4 separate regions of the Homo sapiens genome follow, and all the other regions are reported to be linked to region 1. The links are microRNA targets in miRTarBase. Many come from high-throughput screens and were not tested one by one. Region 1 holds a microRNA gene; each other region holds the end of a gene's coding sequence. Distances are between the middles of the regions.

Region 1 (7,442 bases):
ACAGAGTCACCTGAAAAGTCAAGATCTAGGAGACAGAGATACCCAAAGATGAACTGGGCATGGGAGAGGAAAGACATACTAATGGAGAAACCATAAGAGGGCATGTGGGAGAGTAAGCTCGAACATCTACAGAGAAGTTGTGAATTTAGCAGTAACTGATAAATGATGAGACCCATGGCAGAAAAAGACAGTTACCCAAAAAGAAGCTGTGTGTGCAAGGTCAGAGATGGGTCCCTGCCCTCTTTCCCACATGCCTCACCTCCCTCTACTCCACGGGGTCGGTCTGCCCTTTCCCAGACTCGCCTGTGGTCCCTGTTCCCTTGAGTTACCTGGGCCTGGGTACAGCCAGGCTCTCCCAAACTCTGGCAGGCCATCTGAATTGCCTGGTTTGCACGGGCAAACTGTGTGGGCTCCACTAGCCCTTGCTGTCCAGCTTGGCTATTGGGGTCAGAGACACCAACCAGATATGCAGCCTGGGAAGAGAAAAGGGGGTGGGGGTGAGGAATAAAGATTGCAGGTGGGAAATGAATAGTGATAGTAGGGACAAAAGAGAGCAGAGGTAAGTTTAGAGAATAGGGCTTATTTTCCAGAGTTCTCCATGAGTGGAGATACATTAGCAAACAATGGTTACACTATAAAGAAGAAAAAAAATACTCTCCTGTTTTCATTAAGTATATTCAAGCATTTCAGAAGATTAAAAAAGTTAATAAAAAGGAAAACTACATAGCAAGGGTTTTTATCCAATCTCTATTTAGATATGTTTGTGTATGTTGGGTCTTAGAGTGAAAAGTATGGCTTACTGTAAGTAGCAGTAAAACGTTTGAGAGCCATATATAAATACACACCTTTGTGCACACAAGCAAAGCCTCTTTTAAAGACAGTTCAAAACTGATGAAGGTTATTAGGCTAATTCACATTTATAGCACCTCCATGCGTCAGATATTTGGAAAGGAAGGGAGGGGTTAAAAAGCCATTTTTATGATGGAAAGAACATCCTAATGTTTGATTCATACTTCAATCAATACACAGTAGCTTTGCTTTTTCCTCTATGCATTTTCAGAAGGTGGGGGGAAAAAAACCAAACAAACAACAAAGAGGTTTAGTGAAACCCTGTCTCTACTAAAAATACAAAAATCAGACGGGTGTGGTGGCAGGCGCCTGTAGTCCCAGCTACTCGGGAGGCTGAGGTAGGAGAATCACTTGAACCCGGGAGGCGGAGGTTGCAGTGAGCCGAGATTATGCCTCTGCACTCCAGCCTGGCGACAGAGCGAGACTCCGTCTCAAAAAACAAACAAACAAAAAACCAAAAAAACAAAAAAACAAAATCAAACAAGCCATCTAGAGCAAGGCGCCTATTCTGACAGGGCACAGGGAGGTGGTGGAGATGGAGGGCTAGGATGGTAGGCTTTCAGGGAAAATAGTCTGAAGTGAACTCTTATGATGCCAGTTTGTTTTAAGGATTCATATACTAAAGCAAAATACTTTACAGCTAATAGGTAGTTTTATACTTGATAATGTGGGAAAAGGCAAAGTTAAGTGATAACTCAAGTAACTGGAAATTTTGTCACTAGTACTATTTTAAGAAAGTAGTGATTGGCCGGGCGCGGTGGCTCACGCCTGTAATCCCAGCACTTTGGGAGGTCGAGACGGGCGGATCACGAGGTCAGGAGATCGAGACCATCCTGGCTAACACGGTGAAACCCCGTCTCTACTAAAAATACAAAAATTAGCCGGGCATGGTGGCGCGCGCCTGTAGTCCCAGCTACACGGGAGGCTGAGGCAGGAGAATGGCGTGAACCCGGGAGGCGGAGCTTGCAGTGAGTCTAGATCGCGCCACTGCACTCCAGCCTGGGCGACAGAGCGAAACTCGGTCTCAAAAAAAAAAAAAAAAAAAAAAAAAAAAGAAAGTAGTGATTACAGGCCAGGCGCGGTGGCTCACGCCTGTAATTCCAGCACTTTGGGAGGCCGAGGCAGGTGGATCACGAGTCAGGATATCGAGACCATCCTGGCTAACATGGTGAAACCCTGTCTTTACTAAAAAAAAAAAAAAAAATACAAAAAATTAGCCGGGTGTGGTGGTGAGCGCCTGTAGTCCCAGCTACTTGGAAGGCTGAGGCAGGAGACTAGCGTGAACCCGGGAGGCGGAGCTTGCAGTGAGCCTAGATCACGCCATTGCACTTCAGCCTGGGCGACAGAGCGAAACGCTGTCTCAAAAAAAAAAAAAAAAAAAAAGAAAGTAGTAATAACATGAAAAAATAGTTTGTATAAGCTAATTAGTATATTTTGAGAAAGCCAGCTGGAAAAGGCCTCACGGTTGGGCAGTGTAATCCTAACCAAAGTACCAGGGTTCAGGAATTACAGAAATCAGAACTGCTGGTGTTCAGTAATTGCTGACAAGTGTCTCCACTTCAGGAGGAGGACAACCCAGATTCCATAGAGTTGGCTTTGCAAACATAAACTTCTTGATTTATCTACAGGTATGTCAGGCTGAGAGAAAATGGGGTAAAGAAAGTAGGGGCCATTCAAAGAACCCATCTCAGGAAAATAACCTGTGCAGCTGCCTCGGTGAAGCCACAAAGTGCCTTTGAGGCTGTGGAAATGGCATCTCCAAACTCTGGCAGGTTTCCGTTCTTGGCATTTTGGGAGATGCCAGTCATGGCCTCGCCCAGCACCTGAGGAACAGAGGACATCAGGGGAGTCAGAGCATGTCCTCAGAACCCCAGGGCAGCATCTGGTTAGCTCCATCCTACTGCCCTCTCTCCTCCGAGTTCCTGGCTGTGCTGACCTTTGAGTTCTCCATTACACTGTCCAGGCAACCAAAGTAGGACATGTCATTGATGGGCTGGACTGGGTTCTCCAGGAGTTCCCGGACCGTCTGTGTAGGGGGAGGGCAAAGTGAGATCCAAGACACCTCCCTCAGGCCCAAAACCAGAACACTTCCCTCAACCTCAATGCCATCAGCCTGCCATGTGTCTACCTCCAATTCCCGCAGGGCGTTATCACACTCCTTCTGGCCGGGTGCCTGCTGGGTGCACATAGTGATGAGCTGATTGATGCTGTCAGTTACTGCCCTGGGAGTGACAGAAAGTTGAGTGAAAAGGTGAATAGGTCATCATTCCTGGGTCCTATGTAAGTATTTATCTTTTGCCTATAACCATTCCTAAGCCAAGAAGCTCTCATGAACTGCCTGCTCCCCAGTCTCTCTCACACAGTCCAGGGCTGGGCTTCTCAGCAACTACTTACCTGGCAGCTGCAGCCAGCTGACTCTTGAGGTTAGGGGCAGCAGGGTCCGTGGACAGGGCCTTGGCAGCCAGAAGAAGTTTGCTTGAAGACATGGAGATGCCCTTCAAGTTGGACACAACTTGGGCTCGGTCCTCCTGGCTCTGTTGAAGGTGACAAGGTCAATGCATTGTCCTGTCCTTTCTTATCTGTCTCTAAAAGGGATCTTCTTTCCCAGACACTCAAGTAGTGCTAGAGACTGGGGAGGGAAGGGAGCCAGGAGCAAGTCAGGACTGGTCACTCAACTGCCTCCTATCTAACCCTTAGTGGGAACCATTCAACCAGACCCTCTGCCTCTTCATACCGGAGCCTGGCCTGCCATCTCCACACCAGCTTCCAGGAAGGTGCTGAAGTCCTGTCCAAATCGGCCTGAGGCTCGAGCCAGGTCCTGAGGGGTTCCCCGAGAGGCCTGCACCAGTTCTGTGGCTGCCTGATTCAGCCCAGCAGCAGCTTCATTCAACCGGCTCTGAGCTTCTTGAAATGTCCCAGTGCTAGGAGGAAGCTGCAAGGTGAGAGGGGAAGTCAGACAGAAGAGTGGGGAATGATGCAGGGAGAAGTCTGGTAAAGGAGGGCTGAAAAGGTGGGCACATAGCCTGGGAGTAATGAAAGGGGACAGATCTGGGAAGTCAGGGTCAAAGGACAACCGAGAGGGAGGAAGGAGAGGCCTGGCATTCTTTGACTCCTACGTTCCCCCACCCCCTACCGTCCTCCTACCGAGTCACTCAGGAGTCGCTTGCTGGCATCTCCAACTGCCCTCAGGGCATTATCCACATCGCGCTGGCCAGGTAGGCAGCTGACACAGCGGTTCAGAGCCTGGGTCACTGCTTTAGCCACCTGGGGTGAGAAAGGAGACAGGGTTGCCCAAGTGAAAAGAATTTGAGAGATCGCCTCCATTCACGCGACATGGGAGATGACTAGCTCTACTGCCTCTGAAAGTGAAAAAAGAAAGGGGGCGTTGTAGGTGAACAGGCTGAGGTTAGGGTTTCAAGTGACAGTAATTAAACTTCCCCAAACTTGGTGTTTAGCTCAGCCCATGACTGAATCCAACTGAGACACTTCTACAAGACCAAGAGGGCCGGGCACAGTGGCTCACGCCTGTAATCCCAGCACTATGGGAGGCCGAGGGGGGCAGATCACGAGGTCAAGAGATCGAGACCATCCTGGCCAACATGGTGAAGCCCTGTCTCTACTAAAACAAAATTCAAAAATTAGCTGGGTGTGGTGGCGCATGCCTGTAGTCCCAGCTACTAGGGAGTCTGAGGCAGGAGAATCACTTGAACCCAGGAGGCGGAGACTGCACTGAGCCGAAATTGCGCCATTGCACTCCAGCCTGGGCAGTAAGAGCAAAACTCTGTCTCAAAAAAAAAAAAAAAAAAAAGACTAAGAGAACATAAGGGTGGAATCCACAGAGGGGCTGTCAAGAGCAGACCCAAGAAGACATCACTCTGTGAGTGTGGACGAGGCTCAGAAGCTTTGGCCTCAATCAGGGTGGGCCTTATGAAGGAACCTGGGGGAGAGGGAGTGGCCCTTTCCCAGTATCTGACCTGGGCAAGCCGCTGCTGGCTCTCAGGGTCCCCTGGATGGCCAGCTGCCTTTTTCGCCTCCTCAATGAGGCTGCTGGCCTTGTCCAGCACATCACTGGCCGTATCAAGTACAATGGCCTGCACTGCAGGATCTGACGTCAGTGCAGCGACTCCCCTAGCGGCCTGGGCCAGTGACCGCAGCCCACCTGCCACATCCCGAGCTGCAATACCTTGGGAGATGAGGAGAAAGAGGGAAGGGAAGGTGCTTTCATTGCCAGGCCCTGATTCCAGTGGTTTCGTCTGTCAGTCCCATCCCTCATCCAGCTCCCATTTTCCTACCTCCCTCACAATATGCCCCATGCCTGGCTCTCTGCCCACATACCTGCATAATTCTCATTGCCCTGGGCAACCTCTCCCAGTAGCTGGGCGATGGCTGAGCTCACGGCTTTGGTGCTGTTGCCCAGGTCCTGGGTACACTTCTCCATCTAAGGATGAAGGGGGAAGAATTGGGCTTGAGAAAGGAGAAGGTGAGGAGAAGGAACCTGAGAAGGTACTTGGGGACAGGTGGCAATTTAAATAAATGTTTTGGGCTGGGTGCGATGGCTCCCACCTATAATCCTAGCACGTTGGGAGGCTGAGGCAGGTGGATCACCTGAGGTCAGGAGTTCAAGACCAGCCTGGGCAACATGGCGAAACCCCATCTCTACTAAAAATACAAAAATTAGCCAGGCGTGGTGGTGCATGCCTGTAATCCCAGCTACTCAGGAGGCTGAGGCAGGAGAATGGCTTGAACCCAGGAGGCAGAGGTTGCAGTGAGCTGAGATTGCACAACTGCACTACAGTTTAGGTGACAGAGCGAGACTCCATCAAGAAAGAAAAAGAAATAAAAGAACGGAAAAGAAAAGAAAAGAGAAAAGAAAAGAAAGAGGAGAGGAAAGGAAGAAAAGAAAGGAAGGAAGAAAGAAGGAAGGAGAGAGAAAGAGAAAGAAAAAAGGAAGGAAGAAGAAAGAAAAGAAAAATAAAAGAGAGAAAGAGAAAAAAGAAAAAGGAAGGAAGGAAAGGTTTTGAGCAGCTCTGGGGCACGGAGGTGAAGGAAGACTTTAGGATTTGAGTAAGAATGAGGTCTTAAACATACTTACTGTCTCCCCAGGTAAGGGTTTAAGCTTGCCATCTCGAGCTGCTGCCTTCACTTCCTGTAGATCTTTCTCTAGATTCTGTACCACACTCAGTGCAGAATCCATCTCCAAAGGTCCACATGCTTCCTGAGCCTATGATAAGAAAGGGGTTTTGGGTGTAGAAGGTCCTGCTGTGTCTCACCAATGCCTCTGATTACACAATTATCTGCGTATTGGGTTATTCTGCACAGATTTCCTCTCATCACAGGACTCCAGCCTCATCTTCCAAAGCCAGAACCAGCTTCCATACCTTCTGGGCAGCCGTCCGGAGTTCAGCCAGCGCGGTGCCCAGGTTCTTGGCACACTGACTCAGCTGCATGGCTGAAGCCTGGTCCTGAATCGTTGGCACTGAGGCCTTTGCAGCTGCCACCATCTTCCCACCTGGCTGTTGGGGAATAGGCAGGTGGATGAAGTGTGCCATCCTCCCTCTGGGCTTGGGTACAAGGACTGATGATGGTCAGGATGTAGGGAACACTGGGGCTTGGTATTGGGAAAGAGGCTCTTGGCAGAGATTCAAACTGTGGGAGATGGAAGCTTAGAAAGGTGGGAAGGTCAGGTCAGAGAAGTGCAGAGGGGGTGCCTTGCCTGCAGGAAGCTCTGGCTGGCAGCAATGAGGGCAAGCTGAGCGCTGGGGCTGTCAGGCTGGGCTTGGCTTCCTCGGACGCCCTGCACCAGCAGTGGAATCTGCTCTGCCACTGCCTGTAGGTGAAAATGTCATAAGAGACCCACAAGTCTCCCTCTTCCACTCCCACATCCTTCCTAGAGTCTTACCTTGCAGCTCTGCACCAGCAGGGGCTGGGGGCCGGCAGAGGCCTTGGGGGTAGAGGCTGCGTGCTGAGCTGCAGCGATGGTCTGTGTGGCTGAGGCTGCAGCCTGCTTGGCTGCATGCTGTGAAGACAAGAGTAGTCAGACCAAGCCCATGGATTCCCATGCCCAGCCCAGTCCCTGGCCTACCTTGCCCAGGTTATGCCTCAAGGACGTATTAACTTACTCTCCGCACCTCCCTTTCAGTTCATTCCTCCCACAGCACCCACACTCTCTCTTGCTCCTGGTGAAACTCCCAGCCTCACCTCCAGGCGCTGCACCAGCTTTTTCTTGATGGCATTCTGCGCAGCTGCATTGGTGGCCATGCGCAGCCCCTCAGCTGCCTCCCGCAGCCGCTGCTGCTGCTCCTCACTGTCAGGGTGGGCAGCTGCTCCCTGAGGGAGAGGTGGAAAGACAGTCATCACCCAGCTCTCCTGTGGATCCTAAAGAAGCTCCTCTCTCACTCCTCTAGACTCAGTTTAAAATTCATGTATTTTCCTGAAGTCATCTCTAACTAGCCCCACCAAAAGGCAATCACCTTTGAGAGGAGCTGACTCATGAAGGTCAATGGGAAACCTCAGGGGGCTAGGATTCCCACTGGATGCTGAAATCCTTTCTTAAGGTGGAATTGTTTTGTCTTCCCCTCCTTGGGGAATACCAC
Region 2 (7,442 bases), 59 Mb from region 1:
CCCGAGACCCCGGTTTGCTCTCAGGCTGGAATCTAGAGGCCTCTCTGCCAGGCCCTGGGTGGAGGTTCTCTCAAGTCTCTTAGGAGATGCCAGAGGAGCAGCTAGCAGAACCCATTCAGAGTCAGCTGAGGCACGGGTGAAGGATGCCGGCGAGGGCAGTTGCAGAGCCTCGGGGAGCCTCCTGCCTGGAGAGAGTGGCGGAGCTGCTCTCCGGCTTCCTCCCTCCCTCACCTCCAGGGGCAGCCCCAGCACGGGCAGGGTGCCCCCAGGTCTGGAGGCAGCAAAGGCCGACTCCTGGCAGGACCTCAGTCAAATCCGTGACAGCAATGTCCGGTTCTGATGAGGTCCACCAAATTTATGCCACCCACTGGCCAGATCCCCGGTGGTCAAAGCAAGTCACAAGACCCGGTGACTCACAGGAGCCAGGGGATTAGTGGTCTTTGTGCAGAACCCCACCTATTCAGCAGTTCAGCTTTGCTTTAGTGGTTTCTAAAGAAGATAAAGCATGGCTTTCACTTTTTGGAAAAGCAAGGTCACCCCAAACCACTGGGCCGGTGAGCCACCCGCAGCTCTTGAGAGCTCCAGGTGCCAAGCATCTGCACACAGTGGGAGTGGGAGCCTCGCAGGGCAGTGCGGCCGGTACTCCCACGGTCCTTCCTGGCTCTGCCTCAGTGAAAGCCAAACACACTTAGAAAGCGCAGAGAGAGAGAGAGAGAGAGGCCGGGTACAGTGGTTCACGCCTATAATCCCGGCACTTTGGGAGGCCGAGGCAGGTGGATCACGTGAGGTCGGGAGTTCGAGACCAGCCTGACCAACGTGGTGAAACCCCATCTCCACTAAAAATACAAAATTAGCTGGGCATGGTGGCGGGAGCCTGTAATCCCAGCTACTCGGGAGGCTGGGGCAGGAGAATCGCTTGAACCCGGGAGGCGGAGGTTGCAGTGTACAGAGATCGTGCCATTGCATTCCAGCCTGCGCAACAAGAGTGAAACTGTCAAAAAAAAGAAAGGAAGGAAAAAAAAAAGGCAGCAGCACACAGAGAGAAAGCATCGTTCATTCTAAATCTCCACAGGAAGCCGCGGTCGTGTATTTATTCAAACATAACAGTCAAGTTCTGAGCCATCCTCCACGATGGCACAGCCAGCTATACAGTCCCACGCAAAGGCATGTGACAGCAGAGAGCAAATCCTAAGAACGTTCTGGAATCAGTCACTGGGACAAGAAAAGAGAGTTCTGGAGACCAAGGCCTCCCAGTCCAGAGCTTCTAATGAGATCCATGGTAGAGCCCCACTTCACCCCAAACAGGCCAGAATTTGTGCTGCCCCCTGGAGCCAGGCAGAGGAGACTGTGGGTGTGTTCAGGTGCACTCATGCTCAGCCCAACTTGGCACAGGGCCCATGGCTGCACCCGTTCCTACAGCCTTCTCCAGGCATTTTCAAACATTCTGCCCCATGGACAGTGCCAAGGAAGCTCAGTGCCCAGCTTCTGTCTATACCCTAAACCTTGTGGAGAAAGAAAAATCATACCACCAGACTCCCACGATGCCTGAATATGCCCAGGCTCTCCATTTTATCGGAAGAGGGTGCCCCACGCGCAGCCAAATTACTTTTGTTTTCAGGCTTCTAAGAGAACTAACACTACCTTGAAAACAACAAAGAAACTAGTGAGGTGGGGGGGGAACACCAGAATGTGGAGAATACCTTTTTCTTGTACGTGCTTTTTTTTTTTTTTTTTTTTTTTTTTTGAGATGGAGTCTTGCTCTGTCGCCCAGGCTGGAGTGCAGTGGCGCAATCTCGGCTCACTGCAACTGCCACCTCCTGGGTTCAAGCGATTCTCCTGCCTCAGTCTCCCGAGTAGCTGGGATTACAGGTGCCCACCACCACGCCCGCCTAATTTTTTGTATTTTAGTAGAGACAGGGTTTCACCATGTTAGCCAGGATGGTCTCGATCTCCTGACCTCGTGATCCACCCACCTCGGCCTCCCAAAGTGCTGGGATTATAGGCATGAGCCACCGCACCTGGCCTTTATTATTTTTAAACAGTATGAAATTTAGAAGCAAACACGTATACAAAAAAAAAATCCATTACATTTATTAATAATATATCTTAGATTCTCATCCTGTTCTTTTAAATGGCGCCCACTGGTCTCATACAGAGGAGCTGTGTGACTTTCTGGAATTATAGAAATATCCGCATCCAGCCATGTGCTGAGCAGACCAATGTAAAATGTTCAGCAGGTTTTCCAATGTCTCTTGGATATATTTAATCATCTCTGCAGAAGAACTCAAAATCTCAGAGCAGCTCCACTCCAGATCCAGGGCAGGAGGCAGCCTCCAGGGAGGGAGGCTGCGTTTACGAGAATCTGCCTTTTGTGTGTGCCTGGCTGGGACCAGCCTCTGGGAAAGAGAAGCACCAAGATGTGAACAGGGCTGTGGGCCGATGGCTTTAGCAGCCACATAATCCCTCCTTTGATGTCCAGGGTCAGTTCGAGCCTGGTCCCCCAGGCTAGGAGGAGACGAATGAAAGAATCTTGCTGTGGTCTTTCCTGCAAAGGAAACAGCAGTAACATTGATTACCCAGTCACCGGGAGGAATTCTTGTGAGCGCGCACCTCTGTGTGCCTTTGCTCTCCACTTTCAAGAGAGGACTTTAATCACAGGACAAGGAGAAGACCCAGGCCCATTTCAGTCTCCGGGACGGGTCACAGCGAGCCGTGTGACGCTGGCCTGCTCACACGTGGCCATGACACCAGCAGGCTGTACTCAGGCTTTGCGTACACAATAGCTGCTAGGAGTACCCATTTCAGACACGCACCCACTCTAACTGTTCTCAGAAAGTCTCAGCTCACCTCGCCGTGGGAGAGCTGGGCCCTGCCTCCCTTACACATGGGGGCAAACGGCCCCCTGCTGGCACTGTGTCCTGCCTTCAGGCCTGGGAGCTCTTAACTTTCTGCCAACAGGGTTTTCCAAGTCTACAAACCCCCACGCCGCAGGAGCACATGCAGATGACTGGCACCGTGCTGCCGCCGGGCCGGGGTGGACGCAGGGTGGACGCGGGCCTGTCTGCCGCGAGTGGGAGCCCCAGCTCTCCTGAGCCTCGGGCACTTACAGACACGAAGGCTTTTTGCTCAAGGGCTCGACTCCTGTTCCTGCTGAACTGAGCCAGTGTGTAAAATGAGAACTGATATCAGCTCAGTAGGCACCGGAGGGCGGGTCCAATCGACAGCCCGGAGAAGCAGCGCCTCAGCTGGGAGCTCCGTGGGCACCGTCTGCTGGCGCAGGAGACGCGAAGGCCTGGACTGCAAATACAAGAGAGAGTTCACCGCGCCCAGAACAACAGGAGCTCCTCCGAAAGCCCCGCCCCGCCCCGCTCACAGCCATGAGCTACCACATGATTTCACACGACTTAGGTGATGCATTTGGTTTTAGTTTTTTGTAAGAAGAATTTTTGCAACTTTCAATACATTTGACCTTTCAGACAGATGTCCGATTAGTGCATGTTTCTGTGGACAGACTTAAGGACTCAGTACATGGCTAGCATTCCCAGCAGGAGACAGTGCATCCTTGGGGTCAAGTGGTCTCTCATCCTCCAGGATCGCGCTCCGCACCCAAGCTGACTGTGCAGCAGCGGCCGGCCCGTCAGCAACGGCCTCTGCCCCAGCGGCTCCAACTTAACTGTCCCCATCTCACCTTCTCTTCAGGTGCAGAACTTAGCCACTGTGAACAAAGCGGAAACCAATCACTGTTCACCAATCAGCTAAGCTCTGCACCTTGTTAGAGAGGTCATCGCTGGGCATAAATAAAGGGACGGTGACCGGTGAGCATCTTCCTCAGCTGGTGGCTTCTTTTGTTTCCAAAGAAGAGCTACGAGATGCACCTGTTCTCCAATCTGCAGTGAGCGCGACCACGGTTTCTGGAGGAGCAGCCAAGGTCGTGGTTGCGTGGTAATCCCTGGCAATGTGATTTTAATCTTAAGTCACAAATCAGCATGCCAGGAACCCAAGCAGCCAGAGCACCTGAGAGCAGCGCCACCCCGTGCTGTCTGCACACACTGGGCTTCCGCGGAAGGACGCCGGCGACACTGCCGCCTTCACGCCTGTTATGCTAGCAAACAGGTGGAGTTTCTGTTTGTTGTTCGTTTAGTTGGCATCCTAGAGGTATAATTTCTTGAATCAAAGGGACTCCAGAGATGACCATAAAAATGCCAGTGCAGCTTTGGAACTGAAGAAAAATGCAGGGACCGGCCATGCGACACACACAATTGCTAAAGGCAGCTGTCCTTGCTATTAGTTTACTGCCTCTAACCCTTGGGGACAAGATCCCTTCTCTCCAGGCAGATTCTAGCTGCCCTGGGAAGGCTTTGGGGACTCTCAAGTCAGGAGGTCCCCCTGCTGGAAGGGGCCCTGGGACAATCCCGGCCACTGTTCCTCACGGGGACTGGTTGGGGGGCAGGCTTGCAACCCCTGGATGCATCTGGAGGGGTGGGGACAGGATCGAAGATGCTGGGGAGGGGGAAAAGGGAGACTTGTGACCAAGATGACTCCTTTGCCTGCCTGGGCAAAAATTCCCCATAAAGAGTGGCGAGGGGTGTGCCCTGTGGTGCTGCTCCAAAACCTGCACCAAAGGGAATGATGAAAGGACTAGCTGGCCTTGTAGTTTCACACACTTTAACACGTACGCCACGAAATAACAAAACGAAAGAGAAACACCATTTACACTGATTACTATTATGAGGCCGGCAGTGAGGTAAGTGCACAGTCTGTGTGCCGCCAGCCCGTCCTGGAGGGGAGCCGCGTCAAGTCTGCAGCAGGCGTTTCGCTACGAGACGCTCAGTCCCGTTTCCCTTTCCTGGCACACATGGTTCCTGACTCTTCTGGAAGAATATGATCATGCTTCTGAAAAACTTTTTATTTCTTTTCATTATTAGAGTTCTTTCAGATAAATAAGCTACTTAAACACGTTACACAGAAATGGTTTTCATAAGCACAAAACATTAGAAGAAAACTCAATGTTCAAAACTGAGTGAAGAATATCAACACCAAATATTCAATATCCATGAAAAATTATAGAGAAGCTATAACACGAAAAATGCTTCAGATTTGATAAAGTTTTTTTAAAGATACAAAATTAGACATCCCCTATTAATATCATATAAAACACTGAAGAAAAACGGAGCAGACACAGAAATAATGATGATTGTTAGAGAAAAAAAATCTCACAGCTATCCTAACAAAACCTTGTGTACTACCGCTAGGTTGCTTTAATAGTGTAGAAACCCATACTGAGCAACTAACTGCTAGGAAGTAAATCTAACAGGTTAATTCCAGGCACAATTAACAGAGGAAGTGATTTAAATAATCTAGGACTCCAATAGAAGCCAGGGGAGAAATTCCGCTCCAACACAACAAAGCAAAAAGTAGGACCTGCCCTCAAGACACAGGGTCATGGAGGCCATATGCCACGTGTGCTGTGTGCGCCGCGGGTGCTGTGTGGTGCGTGCACTGTGTGTGCCACATGTGCTCTGTGTGGTGCGTGCGGTGTGTGCTGTGTGTGCCGCAGGTGCTCTGTGTGGTGCACGCGCTGTGTGTGGTGTGTGTGCTGCATGCAGTGTGCGCGCTACGTGTGGTGCATGTGCTGTGTGTGCTCTGTGTTGTGCATGCGCTGTGTGTGGTGTGTGTGCCGCGTGTACTCTGCGTGGTGTGTGTGCTGTGGGTGCTCCAGGTGCTCTGTGTGGTGTGTGTGCTGCGTGTGCCGCGTGTGCTCTGTGTGGTGCGTGCGCTGTTTGGTGTGTATGCTGCATGTGCCGTGTGTGCTCTGCGTGGTGCGTGCGCTGTGTGTGCTGTGTGTGCCGCGTGTGCTCTGTGTGGTGCGTGCGCTGTGTGGTGTGTGCTGTGCGTGCTCTGTGTGGTGCGTCCTCTGGTGTGTGTGTGCTGCATGCAGTGTGTGTGCTACGTGTGGTGCATGTGCTGTGTGTGCTGCGTGTGCCTGGAGAGCCTCCTGCCAGCCGATGACCAGGCGTGGACAGCCCAAGGAACCTCCAATTCACACATGGCTAGAAGAAAACATCTGCTTGCAGAAGCTAGGCTTTGGAGTCACACGGCCGCTTAAACTCCTGTATCAGCCGTGACCCTGAAGACTGGACCAGCGCTTCTGCCAGGCTTCCCATTCCATCTCTAAACCTACTCAAGATGTTCCCCCACAATTTTTGTTTCAACAGATTATAAAACCTGAAGTGGCCAAAATAGTGCCAAGGAGTGCCGCTGTGCCTCCAGGTGGACAGCCTCTGCTTCCCGGTGACTGCCACAGCCAGGCAAGGTGCTCCAGGGACCCGGGGCTCCCATACCAGCCCAGCACCCACTTGGCCAGTTACTCTCCAGGCCCTGGGCCAGGGAGCCGACTATTGATGCTGCGGGTAGTCTTGGCTAACTATTCGGCTTACTGATTTAGTTGGCTCCTAAAAGGAGTATCTGGTTAGAACTAAATGACAGAAAGGAAAGGGAGAGAATCACCTCGTTAAAATAACATTTCGGCCACCACCTGGGCTGAGGACCTATCCATCTGCTCCTTGGTCCGCTCGAAGCACCTACGGGCGAGCTGCTGCTGTCTGGCGTCCTCACTCACCATCAGCTCCCCGTAGAGGTACACACCCATGGCCTGCAGGGCACAGAGGCCAAAGGGCATCAGGCGAAGGTGTGGGTACCCACACACACGCACACATGAGCTCAGTCTGTGCTTGTTCCACACACACTTGCTGGTCTAGAAATTGCAAAGACCCCAGAGAAGACAGAGGCCGTGGGCTGACTGTGCTTTTGGAAGCTGCAGTCTGCAATCCCTGTCTCCTCCTTGTACTCAAAACCCCAAGGAATCCTCAGCTCCCAATTCTCTACACAGACTCTGACGATTTCACTGGTGACAGAACGATGAGCAGGCATTCCCACCATGATGGCCGTGTCAGGAACGCTCTGAACAGACAGAGATGGTTCCCAGAATTACCACGCGGAGAGCCTGTGTGGCATTACAGACACGGGACTCCTGCCCCGCAAAGTGTGTCCCTAGGAGTAGCTGGTCTGAGCTCATCCGGGAAGTCCTTCACCTGCCAGGGAAGCAAAGAGCACAGCAGGCAGCAGCCGCGGCAGAGACACATCACGATGCCCGCAGAGACGCCCACCCCGCCTGCGCCCTTTCCTCCACAGCCCTGCACCGTAGCCCGCACCGGCTCTGCTGCTTGGGAACAATGCCGCAAACACTCACATCTGCATTTTTCCTGTATTTTTAAAATAGCCAAGGACGTTCTAGAAGACCCAAGGGCCCATCTGGATCTGTCTACTCTCTTGTGCCATGCTTAGTTATGCCACGAGTTACATTCCGCTGGAGTAAACTAAAAGAAGGGTCTCAAAGACATCGCAAGAGCAAAACTTCGTAGTTAAGGGTTCAAAAGTGCTTT
Region 3 (7,442 bases), not on the chromosome of region 1:
AACCCATGAGGTGGAGGTTGCAGTGAGCCGAGATCGAGCCACTGCACTCCAGCCTTGGTGACAGAGTGAGACTCCATCTCCAAAAAAAAGAAAAAAAGAAAAACAAATAATTGAGAAATGGCTTTTGAGGCCAACAGCAGGACCAGTGCCATCAGTGGATTGCTAATGATTATTTTAAATGCTAGAATCTATCAGAGTGCAACTTTTGTATATAAAGTACTCAAAACTCAAAGAGAAATAATACTAAGTTGCTACATCAGGGGCATATTTCATAGGTTACTCATAAAGGGTGTAGCTAGAGGAGGAAGTTAGGGATTTAGTGGAAAGCAAATAGTGCTAAAAAAGGCATTGACTACTGTAAAAGTTTCTGGGTTTTAGGAAGAGCAGAAAGCTTATGATACATAAAATGTTTATCTCCCCAGGCTCCAAAGACTGATATTCTTGTGGAATTACCTACTTTCACTGAATCTAAAGAGAACATGGTGGATCTTGCACCTCAACTGAAGGGAACTAAGGTTAGACAGTTACTTTCCATTTGGTTAATTAGATTAAAAAATGAAAATAGCAATGGGTCATTTTCTCCTGTTTTAATCCCCTTAATGAAATTGAAATTCAATACAATAATGTTCCTTAATAAGGAATATTTATTGTACTGTTTGATCTAAGAGGAAGCTTAATATTTGGCTACACGTAATTAGGTTCCAGATTTTGCCTTTTGAATCCTGTGCCAGGATATGAGGTAGTTGTGACAAGTTCCTGGTAGTCAAGGTAGTGGACTGTAGATTAATACACATTTTCTTTTAAATCAGTAACCCAACTCTCAGTTCTGATGTTTAAGGATGAAGACTTTATACAGCCGCCACCAGTTACATCATCACCCATAACACCATCAACACCTATTTCATTACCTAAAGGACCCATCACTTCTTCTGAAGAACCTGTAAGTATCTTTAATAAATGAAAAAGAAAGAGAAGACCCTTTCCCTCTAGTTATCTTTAAGGGCAGTGAGAATCTAGAATTAGTCCTGTTGCAAAACACTGCACAATTCTTCCTGTTGTCCAAACAGGAAATTGTAGGCCAAACTTTAGTCATCTTGTAACCACGTTTTTTACTTCAACTATCCAAAAAAAAAAATTGTGGGTCAGACTAAAACATGCAAAGTGTAGAAGTCAGTTACAATATAGGCAGACCCTTTTTTTCTTATGTGCCAGGTGGAAATAGTTTCCATGTGTTATTTTACACATGCTTCCGACGTGAGGAAATACTAGCTGGAAAGCAACTTTAATTTCCAGAGAAATGCATGTAAATAAGAAACTACTTATCTATCATCCAGTTTTCCCAATTGGGTGAAGGGATTTGGGGCAAGAGCACAGGGCATGAAGAGAGTAAACAGTGGGGAGGTTGTGGGAGAGTTGAAGTGGGAAGTGGCTCCTGTGGACCAAAGACATGGCTGGCAGGACAGAGAATCTATGAAGACACAGATGGGGTAAGCCCAGAAAAGCATCCCAAGGCACACACATACCTTGTTTTTTGTAAATCTCCTTTATCTTTTATTACCAAGGTAAATTATAATCTCAGATTTGACTTTGTGGTCACTATTTTGATTAAGAAAACAAAAATAGCATTCACTCCTTAAGAACTTACACGTCTGTGACTAATGCCTACAGTCCTTGTTTTTTACGCCTAGACACTCCAGGCCAAATCACAAATGACGGCCCAGAACAGCAAGGCTAGTTCAAAAGGAGCATAAAGGACTACTTGAGGATGGAGCTCACTCTCTTCAGCTTCCGGCCCTCAACAGTGGCATCTGTAAAGGACCTCCCAGATAAGACTGTCTGGCTTCAGAGAGCGGATCAGCTGTTTAGCCCGTGGGGCAGTCCTTTGAGGCCTGGTAACCATTCCAGGTGATGTGGGTAGTGAGACCAAGTTCAGACCACTTAGAAAAATATAATTGCAAAGTCCCATTTCCTCTGTACCATTGTCACCCCACTCAACTTTGTATAAAGCCCACCCCCCATCATGTTGTTTTTTTAGTTTCATGTGTACGTCCCTTCAGAGAGGAAATTTTTTGCACAATGGAATCAGCTTGGCACCTTAGATACCTGTCTCCTATGGCTTGGAATTCTGAGTAAGAACTTGGAAGTTCCAAAAACCATTTTAGGAGCACCTGATTAACTTTCTGAATGATCCACCAGTAGGATCAGCACCCTGGAAACAAAGTACCTTATGAGATGGGATGGATATACTCCCCAGTAAGATCTTTCTGGATATAATGAAGCTTCCTGGAGAAACAGACTGGCAATCAGAAAGATTTGGCTGCTTCCGACACCTCCATCTTGGGCCTGCAGAGGCTGCAGCAATCTGTGAGGCAGCCGCAATCTGCGAGGCAGCCACTCTTCTAGCACATATGGCTTTCATTAGCCACCATTTTGCTAGGAAGCATAATTAAGGGTTTAAGCCTTAACCATGTTTGTGTTGGGTGTGTGTGTTTCTGGCCAGTTTGTCTTTCACAAATAAGACTATTAGTCATAGGGATTGTGAAAGTCTGATATAATCCCTGTGCTACCCAGCAACAAGTATTACATTAGGATATTTATGCTTGGTGTTTTCAGTATTAATAATATGAAATAATAGATAGACTGCCATGCAGCTGACCAAGGGCTTTCTTCCCCTGGGGAGTGGTTAGAAGGCCAAAGGTATTTCAGCCTGTAGGTGATAAAATTAGATTTCTTTACTTGCTGTGGTTAGACAGCAGTCAGTTAAAACAAGTAAAACTCCACTGTCCTGTCTGGGATCACCTAAATGAGGAATGTCACCAGCACTTCACAGCAAGAATATGCATTCTACAATGCTTTCTAAATTTGTGCTCCATCAGAGAAGCCCCACCATGTCCCACTAATGAAGCCCAGTTCTTTGGGAATGATGAATCCCTACTGTGCACATACAGCAATCATGGATCCTGCCTATCGAGGTGATTCACAATACACTTTCCCATTTCAAAAATGACGGGTATTTTAATTAGTCCACATTTCAGGTGTTAAATGTGGGAAAGGGATTAGCTAAACTTGCTCAATTCTGTTTTAGCTGAATGAGTCATAGGTACTGCTGGGCTGTCCTACAGTTCCTTCTGGCTTTCCCTCCGAGCAGGGTGGGAATGAGCAGTGACCTGGTCAAGGGACCCGGGCCACTTGATAGACCTCTCCTCCCACTCTTCTGCTAGCAGCTCAGAGAAGTCAAGGATGTTTTGTTGTTCTCATCATTTAGGGTGCTTGGCTGTTGGGTTCAGTGATCCTTACATCTAGCCCCAGCTAGTGGTGTTCTGGTAAATCGTTAACCACCAACTCTTTGAGCCTCCCGGGGTAATGAAAGTTACACCTCTAGTTAGCATGTTTATGAAATAGATCCCTTCTGCACGCGAAGACCTGCATGTAGGGCAGTATGGTGGAAATGGTCCTGAATACTGTTGACGGTCCACCTAGAAGGAACCCGCCCAGACCAAGTCTTAGCAGTTGGGTTCTTACTGACCACCTTCTTCCCTGGCTCTCCTCAGTGGAGGGAATGGAAGGCTGTGCCAGCTGTTTCAGAGCTTTCTCCTCTCTGCTCCCTTCTCTATAGATGCAGATGCCTTGGCTCTACCTGCCACTAATGATCTCATTGGGTATGACTTTAGATTTTTTTTTTTTTTTTTTTTTTTCTTTTGAGACAGTCTTGCTGTCACCCAGGCTGGAGTGCAGTGGCACGATCTTGTCACTGCAACGTCTGCCTCCTGGGTTCAAGCGATTCTCCTGCCGCAGTCTCTGGAGTAGCTGGGATTAAAGGCATGCACCACCACGCCTGGCTAATTTTTGTATTTTTGTAGAGATGGGGTTTCACCATGTTGGCCAGGCTGGTCTTGAACTCCCGACCTCAGGTGATCTGCCTGCCTCAGCCTCCCAAAGTGCTGGGATTACAGACATGCGCCACCATGCCTGGCCACTTTAGGCATTCTCTAAAAACCCAACTACAGTGATGCTAGATGTGTCCTGGGTCTTACACACAATTCTGCTACAATAGAGAGGTGGTGGCCACTGACACTTAGGGCCTTGCACCTGTGTCATGTCTAATTCTAAAATCATCCCAAAACGAGCCACATCAGTGCTGCCCAGTTTTTCTGTAATGCCAAATCTAGGCTAAAGATTTCCCACTCACCACCAGCACACACTAGCAGGTAGTAGTTGGACCAATGTGACTTGAGAGCGGACTGGTGCTTCACCTAATGCCAACTGAAACTTCAGCTCGCTGGCTCCACCCAGTGGTGGCGAATAAGCACAGCAACCTCATTAACAATGAGACAGATTTCTTGCCTCATTTGATGCTCAATCTTACTTACCTGAGATCAATACATTACATTAGCAGGGCCAAGGGACCGATGATCTCCAGCCTATGGCAATTAGAAGAGACGGAAAGGCAGTATTGATTAATGCTGTGGTGATCCCAGCCCTAATCTTTTAACCCTCAGGAAACCAGACAGACTCAGTGCCTTCATGGCACAACATCTTCATTAGATAAACTGGATTCCTTTCCTCAGGAGACCCAATTTGGTCCTCTAAGTAAAACGGCCATTTCATTTTCTCTCAGGTCAATTTCACTGTCTTTTATTTGACAGCTAGCGCAGTCTTTGGGGAAATTTGTGGGTGATTTGAGTAGTAACAGCAAGGACATCACTGTAATTATGATAGTGCCTTATATTTTTCTAGCACCTCTCCCAAGGACTTATGAAGACTTTTAGATTCTTCATCCCTTCACACAACATTGCTTCAAGGTAGGGCCAAGGCAGAAATTATCATCACTGTTTTACAAGGAAAGACACTCCTGTGCGGTCTCAAAGCAAATGCTTTTAAGAGCTAAAAATTCATTTCCTAGTTCTGTTCACCAAATGATGCCTTCTTTAAACATAAATACAAATTGTAATGTTAGCAGGTGCTATTTACAGAGAGAAACAAAGAGAATTTTACAATAGTCGCCAACACTGCAGCTGCCAAAAAATCCCTAGCTCAGAAATTTAAAGCAGCAATCCCATTTTCCCTACAGAAATGAAAACATATTGAACTTTCTTTTGTATTTAGCAGTAATCCAGCAAAATATAAGCTTTAATATAGCGACTGAGGAGTGGTAGTTTGAGCCATGAGGTACGGGGGAGCCAGAATCCACTTAGTGAGGACAGTGATGACCAGCAGGTGGCAGAAGTAAATTCCAAGCAGCCAAAAAACCAAAAACATTCGGAGAATTTTCCCCCCGTTCCTGAGGGACAGGATGGAGTTTGGACAGGAAGAACTGTAAGAAGCCAAGATCTGCGACAGTCCCAACAAATACAGTCTGGTCACATGGATACAGGAAGGACGATCTGGGGAGGCATACCAACAAGAAACGAAGCCAGGGACCTGAATGCAAAACTAGCCTCAGGTGACATGTTCTCCTGCACTTAGAAGCACTGGCAAAACCATGCCCACATAGAGGGGGCAGACACATGTCTGGGTTTCAGTTTCTGCAGACCTTCATCATTTGTTTTCCTTTTTGTTTTCTCTGTTGCCCAGGCTGGAGTGCAATGGCGCAATCTCGGCTCACTGCAACCTCCGCCTCCCAGCTTCAAGGGATTCTGCCTCAGCCTCCTGTGGAGCTGGGATTACAGGCGTGTGCCACCATGCCTGGATAATTTTTGCATTTTTAGTAGAGATGGGGTTTCACTAAGTTGGCCAGGCTGGTCTCAAACTCCTGACCTGAAGTGATCTGCCCACCTCGGTGTCCCAAAGTGCTGGGATTACAGGCGTGAGCAACCGCGCCCTTGCTTTCCTCTTAATCACTGTAGCTCTACCCCGTGGCTATTCCTAGGTAGGTGCCCCCTCCCCAGCCCAACCCCACCGGTTTCCTTGGAGGAAACCATCCATGGTCGATGGCTGCTGGGCCTTGACTCTCTGCCCAGCGCCTCTACTGCATGGATGGGGTTCCTGCCCTCGAAGCAGACATCTTCTTTTTCTGACTTTCCAAAAGCAGCGGAGAGGCAGGAGGTGCGTCGTGAGGTCTGGGTGCAGGACCTAGGAAGAAGAGGTTACAAGGAACCTGCGCCGGGAGCATGCGGTGCCCTCGGGACAGACCTAGCCCCAGGGCCCGTGGGTGTCCCTTCTTTCCAGTGGACATTCCCACCCTTTTCATACAGCCCATAGATAAATGAAGCAGCAGCAATTTTTATTGAGGGACCTAAACTGAAAATAGGTTTAGAACATAATTTAAAAAAATAAAACAGCAAAAGTAGCAAAAAATATATGACCTTTTTAAAAACATTTTCCTTTTTTTTCTTTTTTGTTTTTAATATATAGCAACTGATGCCTCCCAGCCACCAGGAGCATCTTACCCGATGGGTAAATCTCTGGTAACGACCCTTTTAAAAAGACATGTAAATATATACTCAGATTTATACACTTTGTGTTTTCTTCATAGCTATATACAGAGCCCCCAGTTTGGGGCTGGGCCCCAGGGCCACAACACTGCCCCCAACCTGGCCTTCGCCTCACCATCCTCTGGTACCAGGCATTTGGTCAGCAAAGCAAACTAGTATCGGAATTAATAAGCCACTGGCACCACCTATCTGGGGCAGAGGTCACCTTCAATCGAGGCACGAAGCACTGACCTCCCTACTGCTGTAGCCCTGAGGACAAGGCACCTGCCACCAGAGTGCGAGGGGCTTATGGGTGAAGGCAAAACAGACCAAACCGACAGGAGAAAGCTCAGGAAGCTCTCACTTGCATGCCTGTTCATTGGCTCCCACTCCCTGCCCTCCAGGCAGTGCCTGGTGGCAGGGAGGGGTGTTGGTCCAACATCTGGGAGGGGATGAAGTGGCTGGCAGCAAAGATCTGCCTCTTTGCACCTCTCACCAGCAGGTGGAGAGGAGGTGGAGGGAGAGGTGAGCTGAGTGGGGTGAAGGCAGGCCACACAGGAAGGCCCCTGGTAGGCAGCCGGCTCCTGCCAGCAGGAAAGGGGACAGGGACGGACAGGTGGTGGGCCCAGCAGGGGCTGTGGGTGAGGGTTACAGCTGACGGTGGAGTCTGGGGAGGGCGTGTGGGTGGCAGTCAGCGGCGTTTGAGTCCGCCATTGGCAAGCTGGGCTGGGTGTCGGGGCAGGCAGGGCTCCTCGGGCAGCGGCTCATGAGAGAAGACGGAATCCTCCCCTGAGGAGCACGTAGAGCTCCGGGTGTCGGGAAAGCTGGGGGAGTACTGGTCCAGGGGCATGGACAGGTCCAGGTACTCCTGTGATGGGCGAGAGGAAGCAGCGATGGGCCGGGCCCCTCCTCCCTGCTCAGGGAGGTGCGTGCACGCAGTGGGGACGGCCTGAGCTCTGGCTCTGGCACGGGCAGCCTTACCTGGTTGGAGGTCAAGGCCACGATGCGGTCCAGGTCTTCCACCAGCTG
Region 4 (7,442 bases), 96 Mb from region 1:
TCACTGGAGCCCAGGAGTTCAACAGCCTGGGGAACATAGCAAAACCCCATCTCTACAAAAAATAAAATTATTTGGGCATGGTGGCATGTGCCTCTGGTCCCAGCTACTCAGGAGGCTGAGGTGGGAGGATTGCTTGAGCCTGGGAGGTTGAGGCTGCAGTGAGCTGTGATTGGGCCACTGCACTCCAGCCTAGGCAGTAAAGTAAGAACCTGTTTCTTAAAACATATATATATGTATATTCAAATCTGTTAGCAGAAAGTACTTTAAGCAGACTCTAACATAAATTCCTGGAAGACCAAGCTAAGAAGTCTTATTTTGCTGTGTCCTGATGCATGTTTCTGTCTGCTGAGATTTGACTCGATGCCCCTCGCCGCAGGCTGTGCCTCAGGGCAGAGGTTGGGCGCTCACTCCTGGCCGAGTGCTGCGGGGAGGGGCGGTCTCCACGGAGGATGGATGCGGCTAACCCGCTGCTTGTCTGTCTCTTGGCGCAGTTGCCATCAACCTGATCGTGCAGCACATCCAGGACATTCTGAATGGTGACATCTGCAAATGGCACCGAGGAGGGTCCAATGGGCGGAGCTACAAGCGGACCTTTTCTGAGCCAGGGGACCACCCTGGGATGCTGACCTCTGGCAAACGGTCACATTTGGAGTCCAGCAGCAGACCCCACTGAGGGGCTGCCGAGCCTCAGGGCAGGTCTCCCGCCCGGCATGTGTGTTCAGGGACTGAGCCTGGGGACGCCCACCCACACCCACTGCTTCCTCTCGGCGCACCCCAGGGGAGTGTTAGCAGCGAGGCCTTCCTCACTCAGGAGTGGAAACTCAGATGTGTCACTCAGACTCAACTTGCTGGGACACTGACAGGCGTTCCTGAGGTTTTCAGCCACTTAGGCTCGTTGCGGTTTAAAGATCCCTCTAGGTCACTGAGAAATGCCACAGAATGTGCAGGAAGCCTGGGAGGCTTCTGTGAGGAATGTGAGGCACATTATTGGGGAAATTGAGGAGACAGCCTAGACACTGGCTGGCCTGATGTTTTGTTGACAGTGAACCCACAGTGGGAGAGAGTTTTTTCCAGTCTGATCTGGTTCTTACACACTCACACACATAACTCAAAAGTTTTGTGAACAAGTACTTTCCTTTTTTACATGTTACATGTCCTCATGTTTTCTGTTTTCTGTTTCATAACACAAGGCTGGTTGTGGCCTACAAACCTAATTTCATGACCCAGTGGTTTGCAGTCCAGCGTGGCCTACACGGATATGGGGAGCCACTGAGGGATGTTTTCCCCCCTTGCTTGTGCCTTAAAGGCAGAGAAGCGAGGCGGATGCCCTGGAAGCACCCAGCATCACACCCAGGCTTGTGCGGGGCCAGGCTGGGAGCCCATGCAGTAGGGCAGAAGGCAGCGGAGGCCAGGTCTGTCCCGGCTGGAGAACAGCGTCCACGCAGTCCTGCCTGGGGTCAGGCCCTCACTGACCCTCAGGGGAGCCCCCAAGGTGCTGTCTGTCTAGACAGGCTGTCCCACCCCAGGGTGGCTAGTGGCCATATGCAGGGAATGGTGCTTCTGGCTGTGGCACGCACTGGATCACCCAGGTCCCAGCAGACATGGCCGCCCAAAGTCAGCAAGCCTCCTTTGTGCTATGTGGAGCTCACAGCCTCACATGTGAACACCCGTGTCTGGGTTGCCTGGGGTGATCCTCCCTCCTGCGTGGTGGCTGTCTCTGGAAAGCATCCCTTGCCGCTGCCATGGGCAGCCCCAGCCCCCGTCCGTCCAGGCTCACCCACAGTAGTGATGCAGACGTGACGTGGGGGAAGGGGGCTGAGCCCTGTGGCTGGGTTCTGACAACTGTAACGGTTTTGTCGAGCTTAGGCCCCTTTGGAGGGAGAATCAATAAATAACAAACACCAACTACAAACGCCAGTTGGTTCCTTTTTTAATTACATTTAAAAAAGACAAAGGCATGGAGCTGTATGGATGACACACCTTGACCACTGACGAGGAAGATTTCACTCAGCCACGTCTCAGTGGAGTCTCAGAGGGGAGGGTTTCCACACAGCACGGTGCCAAGGGCCAGTCTTGACGCTGTCATAGACAATGACATGCAAGCCCCAGCCCTGGCTCGTGGTTCAGGTGGCCCTCCAACACTGAGCTGTCCCAGGACGCCTGCCGGGCTCGCTGAGGGCAGGGCCGGGACTTGCTCAGGTTGCTGGGTGTTCATGAAGGAGGATCGGGTCTGCCAGATCAAACTCCACCCTGCAGCAGTTAGCAAGGACCAGGCCCTGGTCTGCTGAGGCTCCACTGCTGGCCCTGGGTTCTCGGCTTTTTGTTGTCAATGACTCCTACGCTGGCCTCTGAAATACTCCCTGTGTCTTAGTTCAGGGGTAAAGACACGGAATATCTTTATTGTCGAGAAAAAATTAACTTTGCACAAAAGGAGGTGCTCATCAGAGAGCTTTTCAATGAGACCCCCATGTGTTCCACTAGAGGCCCTGCTCAGCCCAGCCCGTGTCCTCCCAGCGTGGGGCCCACCCTGCTCATTACGTACATTGACCAAGACCCTTCAACCTCATCCCGACCCCAGCACGGGTGTTCTTTGCCACACTCTTGTTCTAGTGTTTTCGGATCAAGATGTCCCAGCTGTCTTTCCAGCGAAGGGCCTTGAGTTCATGTGGCGAGAGTGACTTGTCCCCGTAGGTGAGTGGGCGCAGCGTGTTGGACACGTGGCACGCGGAGGAGTACCAGGCCACCACCAGGGCGCTGAAGATGCTCCTCTGGAGCTGGGACCTGCAGAGGTCAGAGCAGCGTGGGGGAGGGTGGCTGACCACTGCGGCTTCCCTGCCCGGCACCCTCTTGGCATCTGCTGTCCACACGGTCACCCCCCGAGGCCTGGGGTTCTGCCTTCAGGTTTCTGTGTCTTGTCTCCTGCCACCCATGACCATCTCCCACCTGGATGCACTGAGAGGGGCCCCCTGATGACTCCTCAGGCCTCCACAGTGGCTGGGCCACCTCCACACAGATGCCAGAGGACTGGTCCCAAACCCACGGTCCTCCCTTGTGTGGCTTCCTGAAACCGGGAGGCCCTCGCCCTCTGCTCCAACCTCCAAACACACTCTGGTTTAGAAGCTTTCTTGGGTTCTCTCCACCACACCACACAACCCGACCATAACCAGCTGCCGTTTCTGACACCCCAGGCTCCTGGGCCTTGCTCCCTGCTCCCGAATCCTCCAGGCCACCCACATCTCTTCATCCCCTCCCCGTCTCCCCACCCACTCCGCTTTCATCTCTGTCAGCCGCGACTTCTCCCTCTGGGTTCCTGCAGTGCCTCATCTGGGCATCTCTTCTGAACCTCACCCATTCCCCGGAGGGACCCGGAGGATGTCAGTGTAACGTGAAATGGGTGAGGTTCGCTGCACCCCATGTGTTTGCTGCGCATGGGCTTCCCAGCAGAGGGCTGCTGCCCGGTCCAGCCACTGTCTCCGCAGCCCCCGTACCTGCACAGGTGGTCGCTGATGTGCTGCAGGACCACAGGGAGCAGAAGGATTTGGAAGGTGAGTGCGGGCAGGTAGTGGTAGAGGAAGAGTGTCTTCTCCATCAGGAAGAACGGGAGGTAGTTCACTGCCCAGCCACCGGCACACAGCGCCCCAGCCAGCACCCAGCGCAGCCAGGCATCTATAGGAAAGGGCTCGAGCTACACCGACTCTGCTGCTCCCACAGGCCGGGTCTTCTCTCTCTTTTGCTTTTTTAGAGAGAGGGTTCTTACTATGTTGCCCAGGCTGGTTTTGAACTCCTGGCCTCAGGTGACTCCCTCACTTTGGCCTCCCAAAGTGCTGGGATTACAGGTGTAAGCCACCGCGCCCGGCCTGGCTGCCTGTGTTACCCAGCCATTTCCAGCGCATACGGGCAACATGGGACCAAGAGGGCAATTCCTGCCCAATACGCTGCACTCGACTGGAGACACCTCTAACGCAACATGGGAACTTAACATTTTGTCTCTTGGGAGACAAACATAATTTAAGATTCCACAATACAGAAACAAAGAGGCCGCGTTAAGGGGTAGGTTCCTATGAAGTCGGTTTGTCACTTGAGGCGGTGAATGCTCAGCGCACACCTGTAATCCTAGCACTATGGGAGGCCGAGGCAGGAGGATCGCTTAAGCCCAGGAGTTCAAGAACACCCTGGACAACACAGCAAGACCCCATGTCTATATTAAAAAGAAAGAAAGCCATGTGGGAGAGGTACTAACCCTGAGGGAGGTCATGGACATTTCTTCGCCGTCGGAGCAGGTACCACAAGGACAGCAGGGCGTAGATGGCCAGAGCGAGGCTGCCCGAAACCCAGATCACTATGTTTCCAAGTAGGTGGATCTGAGCCTAAGGGAACATGGGAGATGCTGTTAGCCACCTGCCCTCTGCTCAGGGAGGGAAGAGAAGAGAACACAGGAAAGGAATTCAGATGCACGCACTACTTTAGCAGAGTGAAAAAACGCCAGGCACAGCCTAGCATCCACTAGGCCTTACTACTACTGTGGACAGGTCTGCTCCTACTCAGACCTTTCATTAAAAGCACTGATGCCAGCCGGGTGTGGTGGCACATGCCTGTAATCCCAGCACTTTGGGAAGCTGAGGTGGGCAGATCACCTGAAGTCAGGAGTTTGAGACCAGCCTGCCCAACGTGGCGAAACCCCGTCTCTATTAAAAAGTACAAAAATTAGCTGGGCATTGCGGTGGGCACCTGTAATACCAGCTACTTGGAGGCTGAGGCAGGAGAACTGCTTGAACCTGGGAGGTGGAGGTTGCAGTGAGCCAAGATCACGCCACTGTACTCCAGCCTGGATGACAGAGCAAGACTCCGTCTCTCTCTTTCTCTCTCACATACACACACACACACAGCACTGATGCTCTCAATTTTGTAATTGGAAACTGAAAATTGGGAGCAGATGACTCCACTTTGTAACAGCAGCGCTGTCCACGGAGGAGAATGCAAAGTGCGCTCAGAGCTCGGGGTGGGGCGGCCTCTGGGCCTGAGCCTCTGCCTTCAGTGCACATGCTGAGCCGACCTACCCGCCTCTGAGGGAGGAGGAAAAAGGTGGGCATTTCCAGCGTCTGCCCATTCAGTGAATATTTATGGGGCGCTGACTGTGCGCCCGGCCTACCAATGCTTTCACTCTGCCGGGTGGAGAGACGGCACGCACATCAGCAAAGCACCGGTAAGCTCCACCACCAGGTGCCACACGGAAAATTGAATGGGAATATCTTAAAACCACTTTCGCCAGGAAAAGGGGAACAATGTGTCTCCACAAAAGCAATCAAGCCGGGTTTCCTTCAACAGGCACACATGCCACACCCCTACTCCTGGCTCCAGGTTGCCAAAGCGTTTAGAGAAAACCAAGTCACAGGCCTTTGTCAGGAAAAGCTTGGGAGAAACCCAGCACTTTCTAGGGTGCAGCGGCTGCTCTTAATGCAAGGAATTCTCAAGAAACAGGATGAATCTATGACTGTCAGCTGTCAGCATCGCTCGCTTACGCTGGTCCTGGGGTGCAGCCAGTAGGCAATATTGGTGTCCAGGGTGACCCACTCCAGTGGGCTGGAGCTGTACTTGTGTTCCGAGTCATCACTTCTCAGCGCCAGCATCCTCCACTGGAACAAAGCAGAGGCCTCTGAGATTGAGGATGGGGGATGCCTCCCGCTGTGCGTGGATTTGGTCAAAGGAGTACACTGCTGCCCCTTGCACGTGGACTGGCCCAGCTCAAGTTCATTCGGATCATGCATCGGAGGCAGCATGATGAGAACCTGGATTCCAGCCCTGAATGTGGCCTTGGGAGGGTCGCCCCACCCTATGTGCTCCAGTTACCTCCTCTGTAGACGAAGTGATTGGGCTGAATGCTCTCTAAGGTCACGTTCAGATTTGTGACCGTGAGTTTCTGATTGTGACTTCTCTTGGGCTCTGTTGAGTGTGGCCCATTTCGCTGCCTGGGGGCCTTAAGACACCCTGGCGATGTTGCAGAACCTCCTGGGTCCCTATTATTCCTGACCACAGGGCCACAAGGTGTGGGCCAGGGGTGTCACACACAGTCCCTTACACTGGAGAGAGGAGACACTCATTCTGTTGTGAGCCTGTAGCTCCAGCGTCAAAGCCTGACTCTGGTTTGAGTCCTGTGCAGCCCCCAGGCCTCCCTGCTGAGGAGTCAATGCTCAGCGAGCTAGGCCAGCTTCCCCTGGCCGCTCCTCACCTGCAGCTCCGAGAATCTCGCCATGAAGCTGAGGTTCCTGCTGACGTCCACCTGCGCAGGTGAGTGCAGCTCCCGTTCCCGCTCCCTCTGCTCCTGGCCTGGCAGAACAGACAAGGGCATAACAGATAGAAGTAGCACAAGGTCAAGAGCTCAGAGCAGAAGCTGTCAGTGCAGCAAAAAGCTGGCTTCCTGCCTTTCTAACAAAGACCCCTTATCGAACCGCATCATTCCACTTAGCTTTCCCCACCACACCCAAGACTGCCCGGTCAAATGAGGTGATTTCGACCCTGAGAAAGCTCCACTTGCACGGGGATAAACTGGTTGCCTTCCAGCGACACCTCGGAAGAAGCGTCTTGAGTTATTACTGCAGCAGCTGAGTGCAGGGTGCAGGGAGGGAGATGACCTGCCACCGAGCATGGAGAATGTGCTCAGTTCCCTTCCCACCAAAATGAGAACTCTGGGGTGTTATCAAATATTGAGCAGCTGAAAGTACATTCCAGGAGCGGCGGAAGCCACGCCGCGGACTCACTCGCGCCGTATCGGTGCTCCTCCACGTTCCACACCGTGCTCCCGTGGTAGCCCCGGGACAGCTTCTCCCCGACGATCTCCAGTTGCCGATACCCCCAGTCAGGGAGGTGAGCCCCGCTCAGCTGGTGACACCGCAGGAGAGTAAAGGGCGTGATGGGAAGGCCGTGGCTCCCGTGTCCACTTGGGTTGGAAGGGGAACCCCTGCCCGGGTCACGCTGTCAGCAGGTGCCCCTTGTGGGAGATTCACATTGGGATTCCATCCTGAGAAGTTACAAAAGCCGCCCTCCCTCAGTGTAAGAGGAAGCCATGATGACTCAAATGAAGCGTTCCGCCTGCAGAGAGGCGGTGAAGCCTGAGGGGCTTGGGAAACAGACTGGAGCCCACAGCTCAGGACAGGCCAAGCCACGGACAGTGTCCTTACCTTTAAGACAGCGGAAGTGTTCACGTGCACAAAGCGGACCTCTGAGAGGATGGTCTTCCAGACGTCTGTGTCAGATCCTCTGTTCACAATTTCCTGCAAAAAGACATCTCAAGGATTATTTCATTCCTTTTCAAATTTCCTTCAATGTAAAAATAAAGACCTGTCACCAAACAATGATACTGACTTGAGCCTGAGACAAAGGGACAAGTCCCCAAGTGAGGGAAGCTATAAGGGGCTGGTACTGGCCTTCCTTCCCAATGCCCACAG

Evidence for each region. Region 1 holds the annotated microRNA hsa-miR-6852-5p (CCCUGGGGUUCUGAGGACAUG, at 2,705-2,725, opposite strand). A microRNA usually pairs through its seed, bases 2 to 8, with sites in the 3' UTR of a target mRNA and lowers its output. Matches are read on the target gene's strand: a 7mer-m8 pairs with bases 2 to 8, a 7mer-A1 pairs with bases 2 to 7 and ends in A, and an 8mer does both.
Region 2: the mRNA of AOPEP is a reported target of hsa-miR-6852-5p. The part of its 3' UTR that is shown has no 7-base or 8-base seed match.
Region 3: the mRNA of LETM2 is a reported target of hsa-miR-6852-5p. The part of its 3' UTR that is shown has no 7-base or 8-base seed match.
Region 4: miRTarBase lists UCK1 as a target of hsa-miR-6852-5p. Seed matches in the 3' UTR shown: 7mer-m8 at 773-779 and 7mer-m8 at 1,521-1,527.

The regions. Positions count from the first base shown.
Region 1 is chr9:35,708,012-35,715,453 of GRCh38, forward strand. It overlaps MIR6852 (microRNA 6852), which reads right to left and starts at 2,730; the gene lies at 2,665-2,730. It overlaps TLN1 (talin 1), which reads right to left. Exons shown (of 57, transcript NM_006289.4): 21 at 7,048-7,176; 22 at 6,749-6,865; 23 at 6,563-6,676; 24 at 6,228-6,362; 25 at 5,942-6,070; 26 at 5,185-5,287; 27 at 4,824-5,032; 28 at 3,994-4,113; 29 at 3,584-3,781; 30 at 3,244-3,383; 31 at 2,978-3,071; 32 at 2,786-2,875; 33 at 2,550-2,672; 34 at 330-473. RefSeq lists enhancers at 2,770-3,969, 4,061-4,110, 6,696-7,442.
Region 2 is chr9:95,081,785-95,089,226 of GRCh38, reverse strand. AOPEP (aminopeptidase O (putative)) reads right to left here. Exons shown (of 17, transcript NM_001193329.3): 16 at 6,508-6,652; 17 at 2,068-2,545. The coding sequence ends at 6,512. MIR23B (microRNA 23b) reads right to left here and starts at 4,019; the gene lies at 3,923-4,019. It overlaps MIR27B (microRNA 27b), which reads right to left and starts at 3,782; the gene lies at 3,686-3,782. It overlaps MIR3074 (microRNA 3074), which reads left to right and starts at 3,133; the gene lies at 3,133-3,213. It also overlaps MIR24-1.
Region 3 is chr8:38,406,524-38,413,965 of GRCh38, forward strand. It overlaps LETM2 (leucine zipper and EF-hand containing transmembrane protein 2), which reads left to right. Exons shown (of 11, transcript NM_001286819.2): 9 at 423-515; 10 at 839-940; 11 at 1,689-3,004. The coding sequence ends at 1,751. FGFR1 (fibroblast growth factor receptor 1) reads right to left here. Exons shown (of 18, transcript NM_023110.3): 17 at 7,395-7,442; 18 at 4,620-7,281. The coding sequence ends at 7,105. It overlaps LOC102723716 (a long non-coding RNA gene), which reads right to left and starts at 6,488. Exons shown (of 4, transcript NR_188043.1): 1 at 4,371-6,488. RefSeq lists a silencer at 3,228-3,277 and enhancers at 5,890-6,562, 6,563-7,236.
Region 4 is chr9:131,518,271-131,525,712 of GRCh38, reverse strand. It overlaps UCK1 (uridine-cytidine kinase 1), which reads left to right. Exons shown (of 7, transcript NM_031432.5): 7 at 492-1,912. The coding sequence ends at 673. It overlaps POMT1 (protein O-mannosyltransferase 1), which reads right to left. Exons shown (of 20, transcript NM_001077365.2): 14 at 7,176-7,268; 15 at 6,756-6,876; 16 at 6,227-6,324; 17 at 5,520-5,633; 18 at 4,241-4,367; 19 at 3,489-3,666; 20 at 1,914-2,781. The coding sequence ends at 2,607. Among named protein-coding and RNA genes, the nearest start is that of UCK1, 9.3 kb to the left of the region's middle.